Homo sapiens: one gene and its partners. The gene in region 3 interacts genetically with the main gene of each other region. Each region holds a gene or a part of one and is shown on either strand. Other genes may lie near its edges.

Region 1 (7,035 bases), on a different chromosome or scaffold from region 3:
ACCACATCTGGCTAATGTTTGTATTTTTAGTAGAGACGGGGTTTTGCCATGTTGGTCAGGCTGGTCTCGAACTCCTGATCTCAAGTGATCCGCCCGCCTCGCCTCCCAAAGTGCTGGGATTACAGGCGTGAGCCACGGCACCCAGCCTGCTTAGCTTTTTGGTAAAGCATTATGAGACTAAACCAGGGAGTGATTCTCACAGAGGAGGATTTAGAGAGCATATTTTGGTGTTTGGGAAATGAGAAGCTAGACCAACCCTTTGTTAGTAGGAAATGAGAGTGAAATGAAAGATCAAGAGGTTAGGCCAGTAAATGAAGCTGAATTGAAGGTATGTTGAGAGTGAGAAATTTCAGGAGAAACTCTGCAAGAAAGCTGGAGTTTCCCTATAATTAGCATGACAAGGGCAAGGCATATAATCCTTGTAAAGGGGTCTTAACACAGTATTACCTGTGTCCCTTTGATATGCTGTGGGAAGGAGTGGGAGCTGGCAGGTGGGCTGTAAGGCAGAATGTGAGGCAGGGGATGCTTATTTCTGGAGGCATGGCTCCATGGTGGCACGGAGACCAATTAGCATCTTAAATCCCCATGATTGATTACCTGTAGATTAGGGTTTGGTGTTGGTGGGAAGTGAAAATTGTGGTCGGCTGACAGCCTGCATGTTTATTCATTCGGTCAGTCAACACGAACTTATTCAGTGCCTATCAAGCGCCAGACACTGTTTTAGGTACTGGAGATACAGTAGTGATAAGTTCCCATTTTCACGGAGCTGACATCCTAGTGGAAGCCATGGACTATAAAGAAATCGTTCTGTATTGCTAAAAGCTATGAAGTAAAATGAAGCTCTGTGGGTTAGAGTGATACCAAACTGAGGTATGATGCAAAGAGAAGAAATATTATTATTAATTTTTTTTTTTGAGATGGAGTCTCGCTCTGTCGCCCAGGCTGGAGTGCAGTGGTCCGATCTTGGCTCACTGCAACCTCCACCTCCTGGTTTCAAGCGATTCTCCTGCCTCAGCCTCCCCAGGTAGCTGGGATTACATGTGCACACCACCACGCCCAGCTAATTTTTGTATTTTTAGTAGAGACGGGGTTTCACCATGTTGGCCAGGCTGGTCTCAAACTCCTGACCTCAGGTGATCCACCTGCCTTGGCCTCCCAAAGTGCTGGGATTACAGGCGTGAGCCACTGTGCCTGGCCTCGAGAAGAAATATTCTTTGTTAAAATGAAGAGGATATTGAGGGAAGAAATTGAAATACCACATTAGCACCGTAGCCACAGAAAGGAGACAGCAGGATGACATTATTTTAAAGGCCAGTTTTCTGTTCAGTGGGTTACAAATATGTCTCCTTCATAAGGGGATAGAGTCGTCTGGGGGCAGTGAGCAAAATTACTAGAATTCCCAGCTGGTTGGATTGGCCGATGTAGCAAAGTTGATGGTTCCAGCCAAAGTTGAATTTCCTAAGATCTGAAGAAAAACACACATTTTAATATTGGTGGGTGGGTATGACTCTGCCTGCATCCCTGCATGTATGAACTCATTCTTGTTCTCTCTTTTTTAATGAGAAATATTTTCTCAGCTGTAGCAAAAACCTACAGCGTTGGTGTGAGGGGTTGAGAGAAAGGCTGCTAGTTTCTGCTGTTCCTAAATTTACATACATACTGCCACAATTGTAGGTCCCACACCTGACCTAGTTTTATTCATTTGGTTTTCTTCCAGTACCTAATTTCCTTAACCTAGATGTGGATCTGTTTAATTTCCCCAACATACACATATGCTTGTTTGTTTAGTTACATTTCTAATTCTTGGAGGATGAATCTGTCATTTGAATCTTAAGACGTGGTAAAAATTGCTGCTAAAAAGCATCTATTTGCAAAGCAGTGCTTTAAATGTTCTTTCTTGTTCTGGTTTGCCTGAATGCGTCTGTGAATGAACCACTGTTCCTCAGAAAGAAAATGGATGTTGAGGCCTGAGATCTCATTGACACAAGGATGGACGCTAACTTTGACACCCAGTTTTTTCAGCAAAGTATGACATATTTCCTTGATGTGGCTGTTTGGGTCCATCTTCAATCCATCGTTCTTCAGGTGTTTGTAATAGACACTTATCTCTTCTATTTCTGCCCAACTTTACTGTGATCACAGGAGTCAGAATTAAGGTGGGCAGAGCTCTGGGCTGGGTGTCAAGAATGCACTTGACAGCTCTTTATTTGTGACAAGTTCCTGCCCTCCTTGTGCCTTACTTTCCCTGTCGGGCTTGCTGGTGGTTCTTAGTTGAAGCATTTTAATCTCCATGGGAGGAAAGGTACAGTATGTTCTTCAATAATTCAGTACTTTTCCATCTGTCTGGGTTGGAGAGGTACACATGTACCTTGCCCCTGTTTTAGTCCCATCCCTCCATCCCCTCCTCTGTCACCTTTCATGTTGACCTCTGCTGGGCAGAGGTGGACAGAGTCTCTCACTAAATTACAGATGTAGGTGCTGTTTCATAAGGGGTGCATGAACCACTTGAAAAGCCCCGAAGGAAGTGATAAATTACTAAAGGGATGAGAAAAAGCTCGACGTGGGGTGGTGGGCGGGGGGGTGGGGATGAGAGAGGTGAGGGCAGAGGGAGACATGTAAAAAAGATTGAGGTTGAGCCTAAAGGGAAGGGCGGCTGGATGCTATCAGGAGTCTACCTGGCTCTAATCAACAGGACAGCTGTTTATCATTGCTGCTGAGGAGGAACAAAGGAAATGGGTTGAAGCAGAATTTAGATCAGGAAGAGGGTTCCTAAAATTAGTGAAATTGACCCTGGAGCAGGGTAATAGGAGAGCCTTCCTCTTAGGGACTATTAAAAGTTCCTAACAGGGACTCTTCATGGTGATGTTTGCATCCAAGATAAGAGCTAAACTGGTTTAGTTGTATCCTGTTCAGAAGCAGAGGAGTGAAATCCCAGAGCAAAGAAACACGATCTGGGGTGTATGAATCTGAACACAATTGTTCAAAGGCAAGGATTTCCCAAGTCCAAATTTGGCACAAATGAAAAAGAACTTGGGTGCTGGGTGGAACTGGTTTTTTTCCATTGTTGACCTGGCAGAACTTTCTTATCTGAGCAGCTGAGCAGGTTTGATGCTTTTATGAAGCAAGATAGAAGCAAAAATATGGGCCAGCATGAGGGTGATGATCACAGAAAAACAAAAGGTGTGGTATTTGTGGAAATAGTACTATGCCTAATGGAATCAGAGAGGAGACGGGAGGGAGGGAAAGAGAGAGGACTGGGCAGTTGTTAGCAGCTACACATACAAGTGGCTTCAGCTGCCAAATAATTCAGAATACTTCATATGCCCTTTAGGTGCCCTGTGAAAAAGAAACTGAAGTGGATAAAGACAACCTGACTGGCTGGAGGCTTGAGTCCTAGTAATAATGTACTTTCCATTGGAAAAACTTACTCTATTCTGAGAAAATAAATTGATCTCTGTTCCTCCCCAGCACTTCCTGGTTAGAAATACCAGAATGAATTTGCTGTGATTACCTCTTTTGGGAGGAACCTGAGAGTTATGTTGGGGAGCTGGGTGCAAGTGGGAGAGCTGGGCCTGTTTAATTCCAGGCCAGTGACTCACATCTGGTCCGCTGCATGACCCTGGTGTGTACCCAGTGAAATGCAGCACACCTAGGCCACATGGTTTTAGCTACCAGGAGGAAGGGGGCTCTCGTTTCTAAATTGCTTCTTTTGGCCAGCAGTGGCCTCTCTGTGATTCAGAAAGAAAAACTCTGACTCATAGGCCATGTAACTAGGCCCCCTTCCTAGGCTGCAGTGTTGCCTTGTAGAGAATTCTCCCTGCCCCCAGACTGTGGCTCTGGTTGTACAAAATCCAGTCTACAGACATCAAGGTCAGAGCAATGCTTTTTGTACTGTGCTATGGAAACATCCTGTTCCATCAGATTCATTTGGCCCAAAGCACCTAAATCATTTCTTATTTTCTCTGCCTTCCCATCATCCTGTCACGTCTGCCGCCCCCCCCGCCCGCCACCCCCACCAAAAATAAACTCTTTTAGTCCAGGCTCAACCATAAGTTCTGTTCTAAGCATCCCATTTTGATTGATGCCTGGGTTGAGTCCTGCCTCCTCCCCCTAACAAGGAAGCATACCTCCCTGTTTACAGTTCGCTAACAGTTCCTGGTTATCCATTCAGGAAATGTCAATGACCTTTTTGTGATAGGCTTAGAATCTGTTTTTCTAGTGTAAACATAATACATTTTACCTTCCCCATGACTGTTTCTCTTCCTTCCGCAACTGCTGCATCCTGGAGTCACGTTCTCCCTGATCCATCAGTGCCTGACTGAATAGCACCCTACTGCAGTAAGAAGTACCTTTGTCCAGGCTTCCTGGGTTCTTCTTGTGAGCTCCTGGTGATAAGATAACTCTGTCCTATAATTTTTGTATCCCCCACAGTGCCTCCCATAATGCCTTGTGTTTTGGCAAAGTAAATTTTGTTTGTAGGAGGTGAAGGAGAAGACCTTTGAGATCACAGGGACAATGAGGTCTGGCTAGACTTCAGAAAGCCCTGACATTCTGAAGGGGAAGGGCCTAGTGGTTAAGGTGAGAAAGTCTAAAAGCAGGCTGGCTAGAATTAAAAGCAAAACCAAACCAAGCCATTAGCAAGAGAGGCCTTAGGAGAGAGAATGGACTATCTCTGAAATGTGATCGGAAGACAGTCTTCGGGGCAGACCAAGCTTAAGAGCTATTGTTTGATATGTAGTAACAAAGCCTTGCTTTCGTTTTTCCCTGAGCTTATCTTTCCTTGGGGGCATCAGTCCTCTTTGATATTGCTTGTCTTTTATAAGAGCATTTTTGAGACCCTTTATACCTAAAGGTCTAGCAGCAGAATTGCTGCAAACAGCGTCAACTGGAGCCTCCAGTGTCCTGTCCTTTGTTAAAATCCCATAATGAGTAATTTATCATCCGCAGGGTGGCCGCCCTTACTGTTCACTCTGTACTGAGTCCGCCCACTCCCTGCCCCCCACCCCCACCACCGCTGCTTTTGCTTACACCTCGCTGCTGTTCTCCCAGACTTGGCAGGAGCACTTGGATTCTGTGTGTGCACCTGTTAGTGTGAATGTATGTTTTCCCCACCTTCTTTGTGAATTTTCAGGATTTTCATCTGTTAAATATTTTTGTCTCTTTTTCCCCCTTTGCGCTTCCTGAGGATGTCAGCCAGGACCCTATTCTGGATTTTTATTTGAGCAACTCGATTTGGCCATTTTTTTTTTTTCCATGAGAGTAAAAGTCTGAAGAGGCCTCATCTGCTGAGACTGCTTCCCTCCTGTCCCAGGATCTAGCTTGTTTTGGTTTGGGCAGTTTTGTTTAATCCAGTGAGGGTAGTAGACCTAGACCAGAATAATACTTAAGGTGCAAGGACAGGGGAACCTATGAAGCCCTGCCTGGCTTAGCCCCAAGTTTCCTGTATTAGAACACTCCTGAGACCAGTTGAGTGGGGACAAGGAAGCCTTCTCTTCTCTTATAATCTCCACAGGGTTCCTGGAGGCAGAACTGGATTCCCAGGGAGTTAACAGAACATACAGAGGAGGCACAAAAGCATTGCCACAGGTTACATATTCCTCGCCCATGCCAGCCTTATAGCTCATGGTTGAACTTGACTTCTTCCTGCTTTATTGAGAGATACAGAAATAAGAAAATCAAATATTTCTTTTCCTAGAGATGGCTTCCTGAAAGAGAGGGACCCTCTCCATCCCACCACCACTCCACCCTTCTTTGTAGACACAAGGAGGACCAGCTGGGCTAGAGACTGTTTTTTGTCACCATATCCTGTTTTTGTTAGTGTTATCAAGAATAGTACTGGGCCTTCATTTTTGCCTTCCCTCATGCTTGAAGGATTTGTGTTTTTGTGGGCCCTGGGACCTTGGGGATGGGCTGTAGGTCTAAAACAATGATAAAGTAGGAAGTGGGAAGTGGTCACGTGTCTGAGTTCCCAGAAGTACCCCCCTCGGCCTACAGGCTGAACACTGAAACTACTGGGATCTGAGCCAGGCTAGAGGAGGCTTCTGGATGGGCAGGCTCTACCTTTCCTCTCCAGAACTACTGGGATCACAGGATGTTCCTGACTCTCTCTTCCCTGTCTCTTTGGAGATTCTTTTTTTTGGGGGTTGGAGGGGGGTGGTGGGAGTGGGGACAGAGTCTTGCTGTTGCCCAGGATGGAGTGCAGTGGGGTGATTTTGGCTCACTGTAGCCTCTGCCTCCCAGGTTCAAGCGATACTTGTGCCTTAGCCTCCTGAGTAGCTGAGATTACAGGCGTGCACTACCATGCCCGGCTAATTTTTGTATTTTTAGTAGAGACAGGTTTTCACCATATTGGCCAGGCTGGTCTCGAACTCCTGGCCTCAAGTGAGCTGCCTGCCTCGGCCTTCTAAAGTGCTGGGATTACAGGTGTGAGTCACTGTGCCTGGCCTCTCTTTGGAGACTTCTAATATCTCCAAAATATTCCAAATATTTCCCTTCTTTCCTGGAATTAGGAAGTAGCTTCAGATGGGGGGGTTCTATCTGAGCTTAGTTTATATGCTATTCTTTCACCCTTTCTCCCTCCTCCTCCTCCTCCCATGAACAGCCTGCCATGCTAACTGCATTATACTTCTCTTTCTTCCTGTTTCTCTCCCATAGGAGAGGGCTGAACCCCCCTCATCGTGTCAAGTCAATCTCCATGACAACTTTCACTGAGCCTGAAGTAGTATTCCTGCAATCCCGTGGAAATGAGGTGAGCTGCCACCGATGGAGTGGTGAGAAGGTCACCTATCTGCAGGTGGGGCTTTGCCTCAAGATTGTAGGGAAACCTTACGGTTTTATTTTTGGTTGAGTTTCTCTTAATTTTTTCATATGTATGATTTCTTTCCTTAGGTATATTTACAGAATCTTTATTCTGTTATACAAATCATGGTTTGTCTAGGCCTCCTTTTCAGGAGTCAGGGGAAGTAGCAATATCGTTGTAGGATGTGGCACCTGAGCAATGGAGGGGTAGAATGACCAGAGCTCCAGAGCGTGAGC
Region 2 (7,655 bases), on a different chromosome or scaffold from region 3:
TTTTAAACCAATTAGATTCCGGTTTTGAGTTACAACCATAAAATCCAAAGTGACAGATTTTTATTAGGATATTTCTTATTTAATATCTTTCACATACAGTACTGTTCCCTTACTCATGGCATGTCCTCTTCCTTGATGCTTCTCATCTATAGGGCACTTGCTATATACCAGGCATTACGTGAGATGTTTAACATACATTATTTTTAATACTGAAAACAAATCTACATCCAAAACTTACAAGGGAAATCTTATCCTCACTGTTTCATATAAGAGAAAAATCAAGCTCAAATAGATTGAGTGACATTCTCAATACCGTATAACTAATACTTGGAGTCAGGATTCAAAGCCATGTGTACCTAGCTCATAAGTACTTGATCTTTCAAACATATGAAGCAGAATTTCTCGTTAAAGGTCTTTGCTCAGGCATCAACTCCCAGAGAAGCTGTATCATTTACATATTTCCTGGCTATCTCATTCACAGAAAGGAAATACTACAATATATTGTAACTCTACGTTTACATACTTACAAGGCACGCTCCATAGAACAGTTAAGATCCAGGTAACTTATGACACAGGACAAGTAGGCAATAAATATTTGTGGAATGACTCAATAGAGAAATGAAGTCCTATCTGCCACAGATTAAGTTCCATTAAGATAAATAATTGTCATTATACTGAGATATCCTTTTATGCACAATGTTTCTGAAATGTGGTATCTAGGAAGAAATTTGAAAATATGTCCTTGATATTACACATTTGCTGCTGTACTTACAGGGACTACACAGAAATGTCAGAAATCCGGAAGTGTAAATATATGTATTTTTTCCAAATCAAATACTTTACATGGATTAAAGGACCTGTGTTTAGTAAAAGCAGGACATACATCTTAACCATGTAATAAAAATCAAATACAATTACAATTGTTCTATTGGCTTCATTTTGGAACCAATATTGTCCAACGTAAGTAACAACTTTCTAGCTTAACTCCTTTTTCTGTAAATGAAATGCATGAACCAGGCTACCTCCTTGATATCACCTAGCTCTGTGATTCTGTAGTAATTCGAGAATATTATTAACTGGCAACTTCTCAGAGTGTCTCCCTGGCCACACAGCCTAAAAGTAACCATGAGCACTCTCCTATCAAACAATTTTCATGTTCAGCATAGTACTTGCCCAAGACATTTTTCTTACTTTTGCATCCCCACTGGACTGTAAGAACCAAGAGAACAAGACTTTGCTATATTTACTGGCACACCCCAGGGCCTTACACAACCTAATAGGCACCAAAAAAAATGTCTGCTGAAGAAATAACACTCATGTAATACTAATAATGCCTCTTTGCCCAACTTTAAAAAGCAAATAGTACATACTAGACATGTTCTGCATTTTCTAAGTTTTAAGAAATCAATTTTCCCACATAAAGTATTATGTGCTTTGTATTAATCTTACAAGCAAAGGTTTTAAAAATACTTAGTAACTGCCACGTTGTTAGTAACTTTAAATACAAGATAATAATATAAAAGCATTTTATCAATTCCAAAACCACCTGCAAATTTTCCGAATGAAATTGCACGGCAATAAAAATCTTTATCAAAATAAAGCTTAATGAAGCAAAGAACAACAAACACAAATCATCCCAGTAACTCAGGACGGTAGTGTCTTTCTGAAATCATGGTGACTTGCTAGCTCTCCTCATTTCTGTGTACAGCCAGGGCACTCGGGTATTGATAGCGAGATACAGATAAATCTCACAGATAACTCCATCATATTTAGAATCACACAGCTCCTAGTGGGTACCTTATTGCCATTAAAACTTTCCCCCAACTCCTCAACACTCTCTTCGGACCATAAAACTAAAATCCCACAGCTTCAAATCTGCTCCTCTGCCTCCCCCTCCCGCAATTAATCCTTTCGAACTTTTCCCAGGGGATTCACATCTGCCATCAAGATGCTTTCATCCTGCTACTATTCCTAAGTGCCTGCTTCCTCCCAGTTACGTAGGTACTCTCGACCCAGAAAAAAGGCACGGGCGAGGCAGGCGTCCCTCCCTCCCACCCCAGCTTCTCCCCGACCCCCAGCAGGAGCGCCCAGCAGGTGCCTCGCTCCGCACCGCGGCTCCCGGGCCGCTGAGAGGCGGGGCACACAAAGGACCCGCATGGACCTCCCCCCCGGCCTCCTAGCGTCTTCCCCCACCCCCCACAGCCCGGCGCCCCGGGTAGCTGGAGAGCGAGGGCGGCGGCCGCAGGCTCGACGGAGACCAGGGACGCTCGCCCCGGTCGCCCCCTCCCTGACCCCAACCCCGCCCACGTCCCACCCACGAAGGCTGCCCAGAACGTAAACCCTCGCCCGGCAAAACCGAAAACGCATCCCCAGCCCGGCTGCCCGGGCCCTGCGCATCCAGCCCGCAGCCTCCCACGCCGCGCCCGCCAGCCGGCGCCCAACGGCCGCCCCCGACCGCCTCCCACGGCACCCGGCTCTTTCCCAGCCCCGGAAGGGTCCCGGTCCCGCCGCCCGCTCCCCCACCTCCCGGGAAGGGCCCGACACCCGCCCGGCCGCCCCGCACTCACAGGCTGCCGGAGCAGGAGGTACACACGAAGGAGCCGACCGTCATGTTAACGTAGGTGGGGCCGCGCTGGTCGCAGTCGAAGCACTTTCGGTTGTGCGGGAGGCCGGTCATGTCCCGCAGCATCTTCAGGTGCTTCTCCTCCTGCTTCCGCTTCGCGCTGGCCGCCATGGCCGCGGCGCCAAGGGAGGAGGCCGGCAGGGCCGGGAGCCGGGCAGCGCTGCGCCGGGGGCCCGCGGTCCCACGGGCCGCCCTGGCCGCGGCCGCCGCCCTCCGTCTGCGCGCGCCGCCCGCGCCGGACCCGGCCGCAGCGGCTTGGCTGTACTGGGCTCGACGCGGCCCGGGCGCTGTGGTACGCGGGCTGACGGGCCACACCAACCGGCACAGCCGGGACAACCGCCGCCGCCGCCGCCACCTTCCCGACTTCTCCTGAGGGGAAAAGACGAGGAAGGGGACGGCAAGAGGAGGCCCGCCCTGGGCGGCCGGTAGCCAAGTGTCCGCTGGCGCCCTCTGCTGGCCAGGAGGAGTCACTGCGGCCTCGCTGAGGCATGGGCCGGGTCTGGAGCCAAGTAGGGTAGACACAATGGTGATAATAATATTAATAATAGACAGTATTTATTGAGCGCTTATATATGCAAAGCGTTTCACATGGGTTACCTTCCCCTTCTGTTTAAAACTCTTCAAGGGCTTTCCACTGCTTTGAGTATAATTCCAAATTCCTCACCGTGCCGTAAAAAGTGCTCCATAGTCTAGCCCAGTCTACCTCATTCTTCGTCGTCCTCACTCAGCCACACTGGATTTTGAGTTTTCTGAACACAGCAAGCTCCTTTCTGACTCCTGCAGGACCTTTGCCCTTGCTCTTCTCTCTTTATCTTTGGGCCAGCTAATTTGGGGGGGCTTGGGGTGTCCTGTGCACTGTAGGATACTGGGCGGCGTTCCTAGCCTATACCCACTAGATACAAGAACAAACCCCCCAATTCCCATTGCTGGCAACCAAAAATCCCCAGACATTGCCAAAAGTGGAGGGAACTTTAGGGCGGTGCAGTCACCTGGCTTGAGAACTGCTGCGTGTGGAAACCCGGATCATCCATAGCTGACATCCTCTAAGTCAGGTGGGGCTCAGATGTCACCTCCCCCGCCAGACTGTCCCAGATCAGCCGAGTTAATGTTGCAGCTCACCTTTCTCGAAGTTGCTCTCCATCAAATTGCTGCGTTGTATTTTCGTCTCAGTTCTAGCTATTTGAAATACTGCATCTTATTTCGTGTTTACCATGGGTGATCTGGACTCTCCCTTTAGGCGCTAAACAGCCTGGCCCCCGTATTTTCTGTGCCACTCCACCCCATTCCCCTCGCAGAGCTGGAGACTAGGTGTTCAATGTTGACGGAATGAATACATGAAATCGTTCATGTAATCTTCACAACAACCCTTCGAGGTGAGCGTTATTGTTATTTACATTTTACAAAACAGGAAGATGAAACCCTGAGGGATTAAGTAAATTTACCCAAGGGTACCTATGGCGAAGCTCAATTCCAACCCAGACAGCCAGACTGCAGGACCCAAATCCCCACTGCAACAATCAACTTCGTCTCTCGTTTTCCAAAGGAGTACAGGGAGACCCAGAGAGCTGAAGTTCTCAAATCACTGGGCTGTTGAATGGATTAGAATCTACGTTTCCTAACAGCCAAGACCAACCTCCACATCTCTCATGAAAGGGATTGGGTGAATCAACAAAGTGAGACTTCATATTAATATAATACTACTAATAATAATTAATGTTTTTAATATTAAAAGAAATGGACAGATAGATTGGCCAATGAATGTTTTTAAACTTTTCTATTATGGAAAATATCAAACTACCATGAGCCCATGGACCACTTTCAGCAATGATTAAGCCCATGGCTAATCTTGCTTTATAAATACCTCAACCCTCCATCCCCTCTCCTATTATTTTAAAGCAAATTCTAGGTTTCGTACCATTCATCTAAATGGTACATAGTTCCATTTGTATCCCTAAAAAATAAAAACTTTATCTCTTTCAAACTTAGCCATGATACCGTTAGCATATCTAAAAAGTTAACAATAGGCTGGGCACGATGGCGCACACCTGTAATCCCAGCACTGTGGGAGGCCAAGGCAGGTGGATTACCTGAGGTCAGGAGTTCAGGACCAGCCTGGCCTACATGGCGAAACCGGGTCTCTACTAAAAATATGAAAATTAGCCAGGCATGGTGGCATGCACTTGTAGTCCCAGCTACTTGGGAAGCTGAGGCAGGAGAATCACTTGAACCTGGGAGGCAGAGGTGGCAGTGAGCCAAGATTGTGCCACTGCACTCCAACCTGGGCAATAGAGCAAGACTCCGCCTCAAAAAAAAAAAAGTTAATAACTCCTAAAGATCATCAAATATCGCACTAGTGTTTAAGTTGGCAATTATCAATATTTTAATGAGATTTTTACAGTTTGTTTGAACCCACTCCTTGCAACTGGGTAATATGTCTCATAAGGTTTCTTTGGGTCTCTCCACCATCTCTTTTTTTTTAATTATAATTCATTTGTTTTAGTAATTGGGCACTTTATTCTGTAGAGTTTCTCATAATCTGTATCATTTAACATGTCCCTCTGTTCTATTTCCTAAAAATTGGTAGTTAGATCTAGTTCACTAGTATCCAGTTCAGTATTTTTGCGGGGCAGGCATTCATTTCATTGTGTTCTTCCATCAAGAGGGACATAATTGAGGAGAGGATATCTTTTTCATGATGTTGGTAACCATTGATGATTAATGTCTAGATTCATTAATTCATTAATGATTAGAAAATACTGATATTCTAATTCTGCCATTCTGGCTGGGTGCGGTGACTCACGCCTGTAATCCCAGCAACTTTGGGAGGCTGGGGCAGGAGGATCATCTAAGGTCAGGAGTTCGAGACCAGCCTGGCCAACATGGCGAAACCCCGTCTCTACTAAAAATACAAAAATTAGCTGAGCATGGTGGCAGGCACCTGTAATCCCAGCTACTCGGGAGGCTGGGGCAGGAGAATTGCTTGAACCCAGGAGGTGGAGGTTGCAGTGAGCTGAGATCCCACCACTGCACTCCAGCCTGGGTGACAGAATGAGACTCTGTCTCAAAAAAATAAAAAATAAAAATAAATAAATAAATAAAACTAATTCTACCATTCCTTCATTTATCAGCTCAAATTTTCTATAAAGAAAAAATTTCCCCTCATCTACCATTTTATTTGGTATAGTACATGTCAGAAAGGCAGGATAAATATTTGATTCCTTTCCTTTATTCACAAATTTTCAAAATAATGTATTGGCTTCATTTCACCTTCCAGTGGTGATCAATATATATAGACAGAGATATATAGATATATCTATATTTATATTTTGGAGACAGGGTCTCACTCAGTCACCCAGGCTGGAGTACAATGGTACAATCATAGCTCACTACAGCCTCGAACTCCTGGGCTCAAGTGTTCCTCCTGCCTCGGCACACCCCCTCAAGAAGCTAGGACCACCACTCCCGGCTAACTTTTGTATTTGTTGTAGAGACAAGCTGTCGCTATGTTGCCCAGGCTAGGCGATCAATATTTTTAAAGTGCTATTACAAACTCAAGGATTTAAATGTATTTAATATATTTTACATCCCCAGTGCTCACATTGTCTCATCATTGGCCAGTGGGAACCACTGAAAGCTGGCTTTTGAGTATTTTGACAAGACCCTTGACTTAATCCTGAAGTCAACTGAAGTTTTTGTTGTTGTTGTTGAGATGGAGTCTCACTCTGTTGCCCAAGCTGGAGTGCAGTGGTGCAATCTCAGCCCTGTCTCCTGTATTCAAGTGATTCTCCTGCCTTGGCCTCCCAAGTAACGGGGATTACAGATGCCCCCGACACCACACCCGACTAATTTTTGTATTTTTAGGAGAGATGAGGTTTCAGCATGTTGGCCAGGCTGGTCTCCAACTTTTGACCTCAAGTGATCCACCAGCCTCAGCCTCCCAAAGTGCTGGGATTATAGGCATGAGCCATTGAGACTGGCCCTGGAGTTATATTCTGACAGGGCCCCGGGCCATTCAAGAGATGAAAGCAATGTTGAATTCTTGACTGATCCAAACAGAAGGCTTACTGACCAGCCCCATGCTGGCTAAATATGACACCCAGCAGTCTCTTATTCATAACCAACAAATGCCCTCACGCCACAGCCAGTGGCTTATTTGTTTCTATATTTGCAGTGCTCCTTTGTCATTTGTTTGTTCTCTGGTTGCTCATCTCTCCATGGTCTATCATCTGATAAATTCCAAAATCAGAAGGCATGGCTGTAGCACCTTATGTATGCAAACAGTGGAATGAGTGGTTGGTTGATTATTGTGTTTTAGTTGTTTTAAAGAGACAGGAGTAAGGCTGGGCACAGTGGCTCATGCCTGTAATCCCAGCACTTTGGGAGGCCAAGGCAGGAGGATTGCTTAAGCCCAGGAGTTTAAGACCAGCCTGGGCAACATAGTAAGACCTTGTCTCTACAAAAAGAAAAAAAAAATTGATTAGCTGAGTGTGGTGGCATGTGCCTATAGTTCCAGCTACTCAGGTGGCTAAAGCCAGAGGATTGCCTGAGCCCAGCAGGTTGAGGCTGCTGTGAGCCATGGTCGTGCTACCGCACTGCAGGCTGAGTGACAGAGCGAGTGCTACCGCACTGCAGGCTGAGTGACAGAGCGAGACCCTGTCTCAAAAAAAAAAAAGAGAGAGAGAGAGACAAATGTAGGTGCAGTATTTCCAAACTATAGACCTGTAGGAAGGCGAATGTTTTCCTCAAGCTGAAAGTTTATACAACCCTTTTGGATGTTAGCTGTTTCATGCCATACATAGTATCAAAGTTGGTTTCTACTTTAAAATATCCCAAGGAGAGTTTGCTGTGTATCAAGCAAGACTACTTATTTACTTTAATTTCCGTAACTTTCATAACAACGCAGAAAGAGGTATTATTACCGCTGTTTTATATATGAGGAAACTAAGGCTCTGAAAGGCTGGCCTGCCCAAGGCCATGCCAGAAGTGAGGCATGAAGCCAGGATTCAAACCCAGATCTGGCTGCCAAGGCACC
Region 3 (7,674 bases):
TGCATTCCCAGGCGGTTAAGGCATTCTTAGCCACATGATGAGATAGGAGGTCAGCACTAAAGACCTTGCTGATAAAACAGGTTGCAGTAAAGAAGCCGGCTAAAACCCACCAAAACCAAGATAGTGATGGGAGTGACCTCTGGTGGTCCTCACTGCTACACTCCCACCAGCGCCATGGCAGTTTACAAAGGTCATGGCAACATCAGGAAGTTACTGTATATGGCAGCCTGAAAAGGGGGCCGGGCGCGGTGGCTCACGCCTGTAATCCCAGCACTTTGGAAGGCTGAGATGGGTGGATCACGAGGTCAGGAGATCGAGACCATCCTGGCTAACACAGTGAAACCCTGTCTCTACTAAAAATACAAAAAAATTAGCCGGGCGTGGTGGTGGGTGCCTGTAGTCTCAACTACTCGGGAGGCTGAGGCAGGAGAATGGCGTGAACCCGGGAGGCGGAGCTTGCAGTGAGCCGAGATCGCGCCACTGCACTCCAGCCTGGGTGACAGAGCGAGACTCCGTCTCAAAAAATAAATAAATAAATACATAAATAAGTAAAAAGGGAAGGCATGAATAATCCACCCCTTGTCTAGCATATCATCAAGAAATAACCATAAAAATGAGCAACCTGGCCAGGCACAGTGGCTCAAGCCTGTAATTCCAGCACTTTGAGAGGCCGAGGCAGGCGGATCACTTGAGGTTGGGAGTTCAAGACCAGCCTAACCAACATGGAGAAACCCCACATCTACTAAAAATACAAAATTAGCTGGGCGTGGTGGTGCATGTCTCTAATCCCAGCTATTCAGGAGGCTGAGGCAGGAGAACCACTTGAACCCAGGAGGTGGAGGTTGTGGTGAGCTGAGATCCCGTCATTGCACTCCAGCCCTGGCAACAACAGTGAAACTTCTCCCAAAAAAAAAAAGCAACCAGCAGCCCTTGGGGCTGCTCTATGAAGTAGCCATTCCTTTATTCCTTTACTTTCCTAATAAACTTGCTTTCACTTTACTGTATGGACTCGCACTAATTCTTTCTTGGGTGAGATCCAAGAACCCTCTCGGGGTCTGGATCAAGACCCCTTTGCGGTAACAGTACAAAGGGTCTGATTGTGAGAAGTGGCAGGGATCACTGGAACTCCACTTCAGATCCCATCTGGATCATCAAAACATCAACCCTAAATAAATAAATTCAGGAAATATGGTTAAATATAGAGTTTAGTTTAGCACAAAAGTTTGAGGACGGCCACCCTGGAACACAGATTCCAAAGAATGGAAATCAGCATTCCAAACTGAGGAAGTTTGGGGGTCATTTATATAGGTAAGGTTTGGGAAGCTTGACAGCGTTTCTACATATTTCACACAAGGCAAGTACATAGTTAACAGTAATCTGATTAGTCAAGGCAGTGGTCTTTTTGGGAAGGGTATATTTAACATTCACATAGAGGACATAACAGTCACAGGACCTTTTGCACTATCTGGTCTGATTTAGGTGCAAGATAATAGAGGAAAGGTCAGCAATGAAGAAGGGCGATCTTAACGCTGATGCCATTTAGTCTTGAAATGAATCTACAGAGCAAGAACAGGAGAGTTAATCTATAATCTATAAGCAGAAGTTGTAGTTACATGCTGTCTGGCTCAGATCACACAGTCCCGTTTTCTTCAAGGCTCAACATAATTCTTAGGGTTCAAAAGTGTATGATTAAGTTTGGATTTTTTTTTTTTTTTTTGAGACGAAGTTTCTGTGTTGCCCAGGCTGGAGTGCAGTGGCGCGATCTCGGCTCACTGCAAGACCCGCCTCCTGAGTTCATGCCATTCTCCTGCCTCAGCCTCACAAGTAGCTGGGACTACAGGCACCCCCCACCATGCCCGGCTAAATTTTCGTATTTTTAGTAGAGATGGGGTTTCACCATGTTGGCCAGGATGGTCTCGATCTCCTGACCTCATGATCTGCCTGCCTCGGCCTTCCAAAGTGTTGGGATTTCAGGCGTGAGCCACCATGCCCGGCCTTTTTTTTTTTCTTTTTTTTCTTCTGAGACGGAGTTTTGCTCTTGTTGCCCAGGCTGGAGTGCAATGGTGCGATCTTGGCTCACTGCAACCTCCCCATCCCAGGTTCAAGCAATTCTCCTGCCTCAGCCTCCCGAGTAGCTGGGATTACAGGCACCCGCCACCACGCCTGGCTAATTCTTGTATTTTTAGTAGAGATGGGGTTTCACTGTGTTGGCCAGGCTGGTCTCGAATTCCTGACCTCGTGAACTGCCTGCCTCGGCCCTCCAAAGGGCTGGAATTACAGGTGTGGGCCACCGCGCCCAGCCAAGTTTGGATTATTTTTACAAGATGATGCTGGAGAGTTTCTATGGCCACCACCATTCTAGACTCTGATACTGGCACTTAAAGCCTGCATGCTACATTTCCTGGACGCCGTTGCCAATTGGCAACGTTCCTGTCATGCTTTATTAGAACAAAGTTGGGAGGCAGAAAGAGGGGAGAAACCATTTTTTCAGACTTCTGCCAGTGGCTTAGGTGGTGGTGACAACAACAACTGTGACTTTCGCAATCATGGTGGAGGCAACTGTGGCTAGCAAGGGTGAACACATCTGGGATCCTTCTGTAGGCACAGTGATTGTGGGTTATGGGTCCTCCTGTGCTTTATTTATTTATTTATTTTGAGACGGAGTTTCGCTCTTGTTGCCCAAACTGGAGTGCAGTGGCGTGATCTCAGCTCACTGCAACCTCCGCCTCCCAGGTTCAAGTGATTCTCCTGCCTCAGCCTCCCGAGTAGCTGGGATTACAGGTGCCCACCACCACAACCGGCTAATTTTTGTATTTTTAGTAGACACGGGATTTCATCATGTTGGCCAGGCTGGTCTCAAACTTCTGACCTCAGGTGATCCATCCACCTCGGCCTCCCAAAGTGCTGGGATTACAGGCGTGAGCCACTATGCCCAGCCACCTCCCCTGCTTTAATCTTTCAGCTCTAGAGAGGCTAGCAGCCTCATATAGTTATGAATCTTTAGGTAAACTTACCTTCCTCTTTTGTTCTTCCAGTACTTCCAACACTTTTATACTCAGTCCCCTGTAGTCGTTTATGTATTCATTTATTTTTATTTATTTATTTTTTAGACAGAGTCTCGCTCTGTCACCTAGGTTGGAGTGCAATGGTGAGTTCTCAGCTTATTGCAACCTTCCCCTCCCAGGTTCAAGCAATTCTCCTGCCTCAGCCTCCTGAGTAGCTGGGATTACAGGCACCTGCCACTGCACTGGGTTAATTTTTGTATTTTTAGTAAAGATGGGGTTTCTCCATGTTGGCCAGGCTGGTATCAATCTACCTGTCTCAACTGGATTGCTGGGATTACAAGTGTGAGCCACAGAGCCTGGCTCAATCCCCTGTATTCAATATCCTCTGTTTGAAGTACCTAGAAGGACTTCTCTTTTCCTTATGGAATACGTACTGATAAAGCACTCAAGACTGTTAAAAACCTTCATTACTCTATTGATGTAACAAAAGAAGCTGAGGCAAAGTTAATATAAGTAGAGAGTTTGGGCCAAGGTTGAGGACCGCAGTCCAGGAGACACAGATTCAAGTTGCCCTGAATGTATGCTTTGATTAGCAACAGTTACAAGTGGGTTCTTTTTGTTTTTGACTTTGTTTTGAGACAGAGTCTCACTCTGTCACCCAGGCTGGAGTGCAGTGGTGCAATCTTGGCTCACCGCAACCTCCACCTCCCGGGTTCAAGTGATTCTCTGGCCTCAGCCTCCTGAGTAGCTGGGACTACAGGCATGCACCACCACACCTGCTAATTTTTGTATTTTTTTTAGTAGAGATGGGGTTTCACCATATTGATGTTTCACCATACTGGCCAGGCTGGTCTCCAACTCCTGACCTCATGACCCTCCCACCTCGGCCTCCCAAAGTGCTGGGATTACAGGTGTAAGCCACTGTACCTGGCAACAAGTGGGTTCTTGTCTTATTTATTTATTTATTTTTGAGACAGAGTTTCGCTTCTGTTGCCCAGGCTGGATTGCAATGGTGTGATCTTGGCTCACTGAAACCTCTGCTTCCTGGGCTCAAGCAATTCTCCTGCCTCAGTCTCCTGAGTAGCTTGGATTTCAGGTGCCCGCCACCACAGCCAGGAGGACGCCTTGCGGGGCAGGGTGAGGGGGGCAGGGTGCGGGTCCCCCAAATTAGCGCGCACACACACACACACACACACACACACACACTGCGATCCTAGGAACAGGGCGCTTTGCGGGGCAGGGTGAGGGTCCCGACCCTCCGCGGGGTGGGCGACCGCCTCCCCAGGCGCACTGGCAGGGGGACGGCATCCCTAACAGAGAACCAGGCCTCGGCATGGGCTGGAGGGATGACACAGCATGGTCGACTCGGACAGCGGCCAGCGGCATGAGAGTCCGAACAACGTTGGAAGGAGGAGTAGGGGAACGGGCAAGAGAGCACGGAAGACGCAGATGCCTCAGGCCCAGCCCCTCCAGGCTGCGTGTGGGCGGCCCCGCCCCTGCCCCCGCCCCTCCCGGCCTGACTGCACATGCGTGGCCCTGTCTACGGCCCCGCCCTCTCCCGGGACAGGCGGCCTGCGCACCGCCCTCCCGTCGTCCCAGTGCGCACGCGTGGCTGCAGCCCCGCCCCCGTTCCCCCGGCGCTCGGAGCCCGAGTCCGCGGGAAGATGGCGGCGCCGCTCATCCCCCTCTCCCAGCAGGTACGGGCCGGGCGGGCCTGGGGGCGGCGCCGGGGTGCGGGGCGCGAGGCGAGCGGTGCGGCGAGGCTGAGGCGCTGGGAGACTCAGCCAGGCGGCGGCGGGGGCGGCGCGTGCTGAAGGGCTTGCGGCGGGCGGGTGGGCAGGCGGCCCTGAAGGTGACAGGCCGGGACCCGCGGCCTCCCGTGCCCGAGCGACCCTCGCGGGCACCGGCGAGGCGAGGAGGTGCGCAGCGCGTGTCCTCTCCGCCCAGGGCCCGGACCCTGCCGCCGCTGAAGCTCCCAGGCCGGGGACCCGCGGAGGCGCTGGGCTGCATCCCGGAGGGGTGGGCGAGGGGTGCGAGCGTTTCTGTCGGCGCGGCGGCCCAGCGAGTCTTTGTCTCCCTCCGGTCCCGGCGCCCGGGCGGGCAGGGTCCCGCCGGAGCCCGGACCCGTCAGCAGCAGTGCGATCTCAGACTGATCCCCTGCCTCCTTGGAAGCTGCTTCCGCCACCCCTGCACCGGGCGCAGATCGTACGTCTCCGGGCGCCTCTCTGTGTCCTCAAATTCGCCTGATGCGCTTATGAAGGGGCAGTATCGATAGCGCGACACAGACATGCGAAAAAGAGCCATGCGTAGGCAGCTCTGTTATTTGGGAGAGACTTTCATTCATTCATTTTCTATCCATCCCTCAAATGTGCGTTGGGTCAGGTGCTGGGAGCGCTGCATTCTTCCAGACAGACAAGGTCGCTGCTTTCCTGGAGGTGACACTCGTGGGAACTAGAAACTACCTGTGTTATGCTAATCACAGCTGCCTTTATTTGCTGAATACCTGTGTTGTGCAAAGCACCATATAAGCATTTTGCTAGAATGATCTAGCACAGCATGGTGATTAAGAGTGAGGACACAGGGTCAGATCATGTGTTCAAATCTTGGCTCCAGCCCCGATTTCTCTGTGCCTTTGGTTGAAGCTCTTAGCCATTCCACCCATCAGTTGCTTCCTTTGGAAAATGGAGATATAAAAATGTGTTGGGATTATGTGAAAATTAAGCACGTGAAAAAGCGCTTAGAACAGTGCCTAGCATATGAGAGGCACTCAGTGATCCTATAATTACTGTCATCATTTAATCTCTGCCAGATTTGGACGTTTGGGAGTAGAGACCGCAGCAATTAAGAATTCCAAACCCAAAGAGAGTTGATAGGCCGGTTGCATGCTTGCATGACTGGTTAGCTGATCCAAGGAGAGAGAAGTGCACAGCTAGCCAATTTGCAACACTGTCACTAAGTTAACAGTGCTAAAACCCGGTGATTATTAATTAGCAAGTTCTTGTTACTGACATGAAAGTGCTCTGTAAACTGTTAAGTGTCCTACCGATAATAGGTGTTAATAGCTAAGTGCTACAGTTTAGAGTATGTAGTCAGGGGGTGGGGGGCGGGGAAGGCGGGAGTCGGGGGAAAATCACCTAAGATCATTTCATGAGAAAGCACTAAGCACTCCCAGTTTGGGAGGCGTGGATCTTTCTAAAACTTCCTGTCCAATTTTTTTTTTTTTGAGATGGAGTATTGCTCTGTCACCCAGGGTGGAGTGCAGTGGCATGATCTCAGCTCACTGTAACCTCCGCCTCCCGAGTTCAAGTGATTCTCCTGCCTCAGCCTCCTGAGTAGCTGGGACTACAGGCACGTGCTACCACACCCGGCTAATTTTTGTATTTTTTTTTTAGTGGAGACGGGGTTTCACCATTTTGGCGAGGCTCGTGTCAAACTCCTGAACTCGAGTGATCCACCCGCCTTGGCCTCCCAAAGTGCTGGGATTACAGGCGTTAGCCACTGCGCCTGGCCAGGTCACTGACTTCTTAGCCTCTTCCTGTTCCTTTCCCTATACATTTGTTGAATGAAGGCGTGGCCTGGTTTTCTTCGTTTGGAAATGTCAGCACTTCTTTACACTTGCTCTCGAGTGAAAATCTACACCATGGGTTACTGTTGGCCCAGGTGTGAGGCATGGCCCTCCCAGGCCCTTACTGTCTAGCTCAGGAGATCACTTGGGTTCACAGATAACTCTGGGGGAACCAAGGGTATAATTCCAAAATTTTTGGTTGGGGGCAAAAGGGAAGCACCCTGCAGCAGGTGGCTGTGATCTGGTTGGATTTAGGTGACAGAGCACACTTGGCAAGCAGATGGCCAGGTGAAGGTGAGCAAAGTGGATAACCCAGCGGGCTAGCCTAGGGGAGGAGGGGTGTGTTTTCTCCACCCCCACTCCTGTCTGCACTTTTCCCATCAGCATCTTTTTCAGTCTGTTCTGTACTCCATGACATCATCTCAGAATCTCCTTCCTTATATACTCTTTTCTGACCCTGAATATCAACGTAAATTCGAAAGGTCTGCACCTCTGCCTCTTTAGGAGTGATTTTTTTTTCCCAACAGCATCTCAGTGATTTGTGTGTCTCCCTGTCCCCCTGCTCAGCTCTCTTCTGCTTTCCAAAAAGCCTTCCGTGGAAATGCATCCAGATCTCTTTCCTCCTTGTACTCCCCGAGGTTACCGGTGGCCCCTCCGTCCTTAACCCCGGTGCCCTGTGGCTGCAGCCGATCCTCCTCGAACTCCGCAACACTGGAGCCCGTCGGTCTTCACTCTTCATCCTCTCTCCTTTCAGTCTCTCCTTCTTGTCCCCTAATTTCAGCCTCCCTACCTGCATCTTATCTCTCTGTGCGCTCCCTCCCCTGGAGCTTCTGTGCAGAGGACTTCAAACCTGCCTTCTAGAGTCCAGAAGGTGTCTCTCTCCTGCACCTCTGCCAGCCTGCTGGACTCTGGAATGGGCCATTTCCTTGCCATGCCCCAAAGTGGTCTGGGCCATTCTACTTCCTACTTGCCCACTCCCTCCCACTTAATCCCACGCCACTGTGGAAGTCATCTTTTTGATTTTTGAGACAGGGTCTCGCTCTGTCCCCCAGGCTGGAGTGCAGTGGTAGGATCATAGCTCACTGCAACCTCAAACTCCTGGGC

The links.
Region 1: of EPS15L1 (region 3) and AGFG2, changing one enhances a phenotype caused by changing the other (phenotypic enhancement), as found in Homo sapiens cells (one study listed by BioGRID).
Region 2: of EPS15L1 (region 3) and AGFG1, changing one enhances a phenotype caused by changing the other (phenotypic enhancement), as found in Homo sapiens cells (one study listed by BioGRID).

What each region holds. Positions count from the first base shown.
Region 1 is NC_000007.14:100,542,168-100,549,202, forward strand, and holds part of AGFG2 (arf-GAP domain and FG repeat-containing protein 2), read left to right. Parts: intron 1-1,299; exon of another isoform or gene 1,300-1,465; intron 1,466-4,240; exon of another isoform or gene 4,241-4,338; intron 4,339-6,654; coding exon 6,655-6,748; intron 6,749-7,035.
Region 2 is NC_000002.12:227,467,501-227,475,155, reverse strand, and holds the start of AGFG1 (arf-GAP domain and FG repeat-containing protein 1), read right to left. Parts: upstream 3,001-7,655; 5' UTR 2,735-3,000; coding exon 2,568-2,734; intron 1-2,567. UniProt on the Homo sapiens protein: Required for vesicle docking or fusion during acrosome biogenesis. May play a role in RNA trafficking or localization.
Region 3 is NC_000019.10:16,468,941-16,476,614, reverse strand, and holds the start of EPS15L1 (epidermal growth factor receptor substrate 15-like 1), read left to right. Parts: upstream 1-4,644; 5' UTR 4,645-4,669; coding exon 4,670-4,702; intron 4,703-7,674.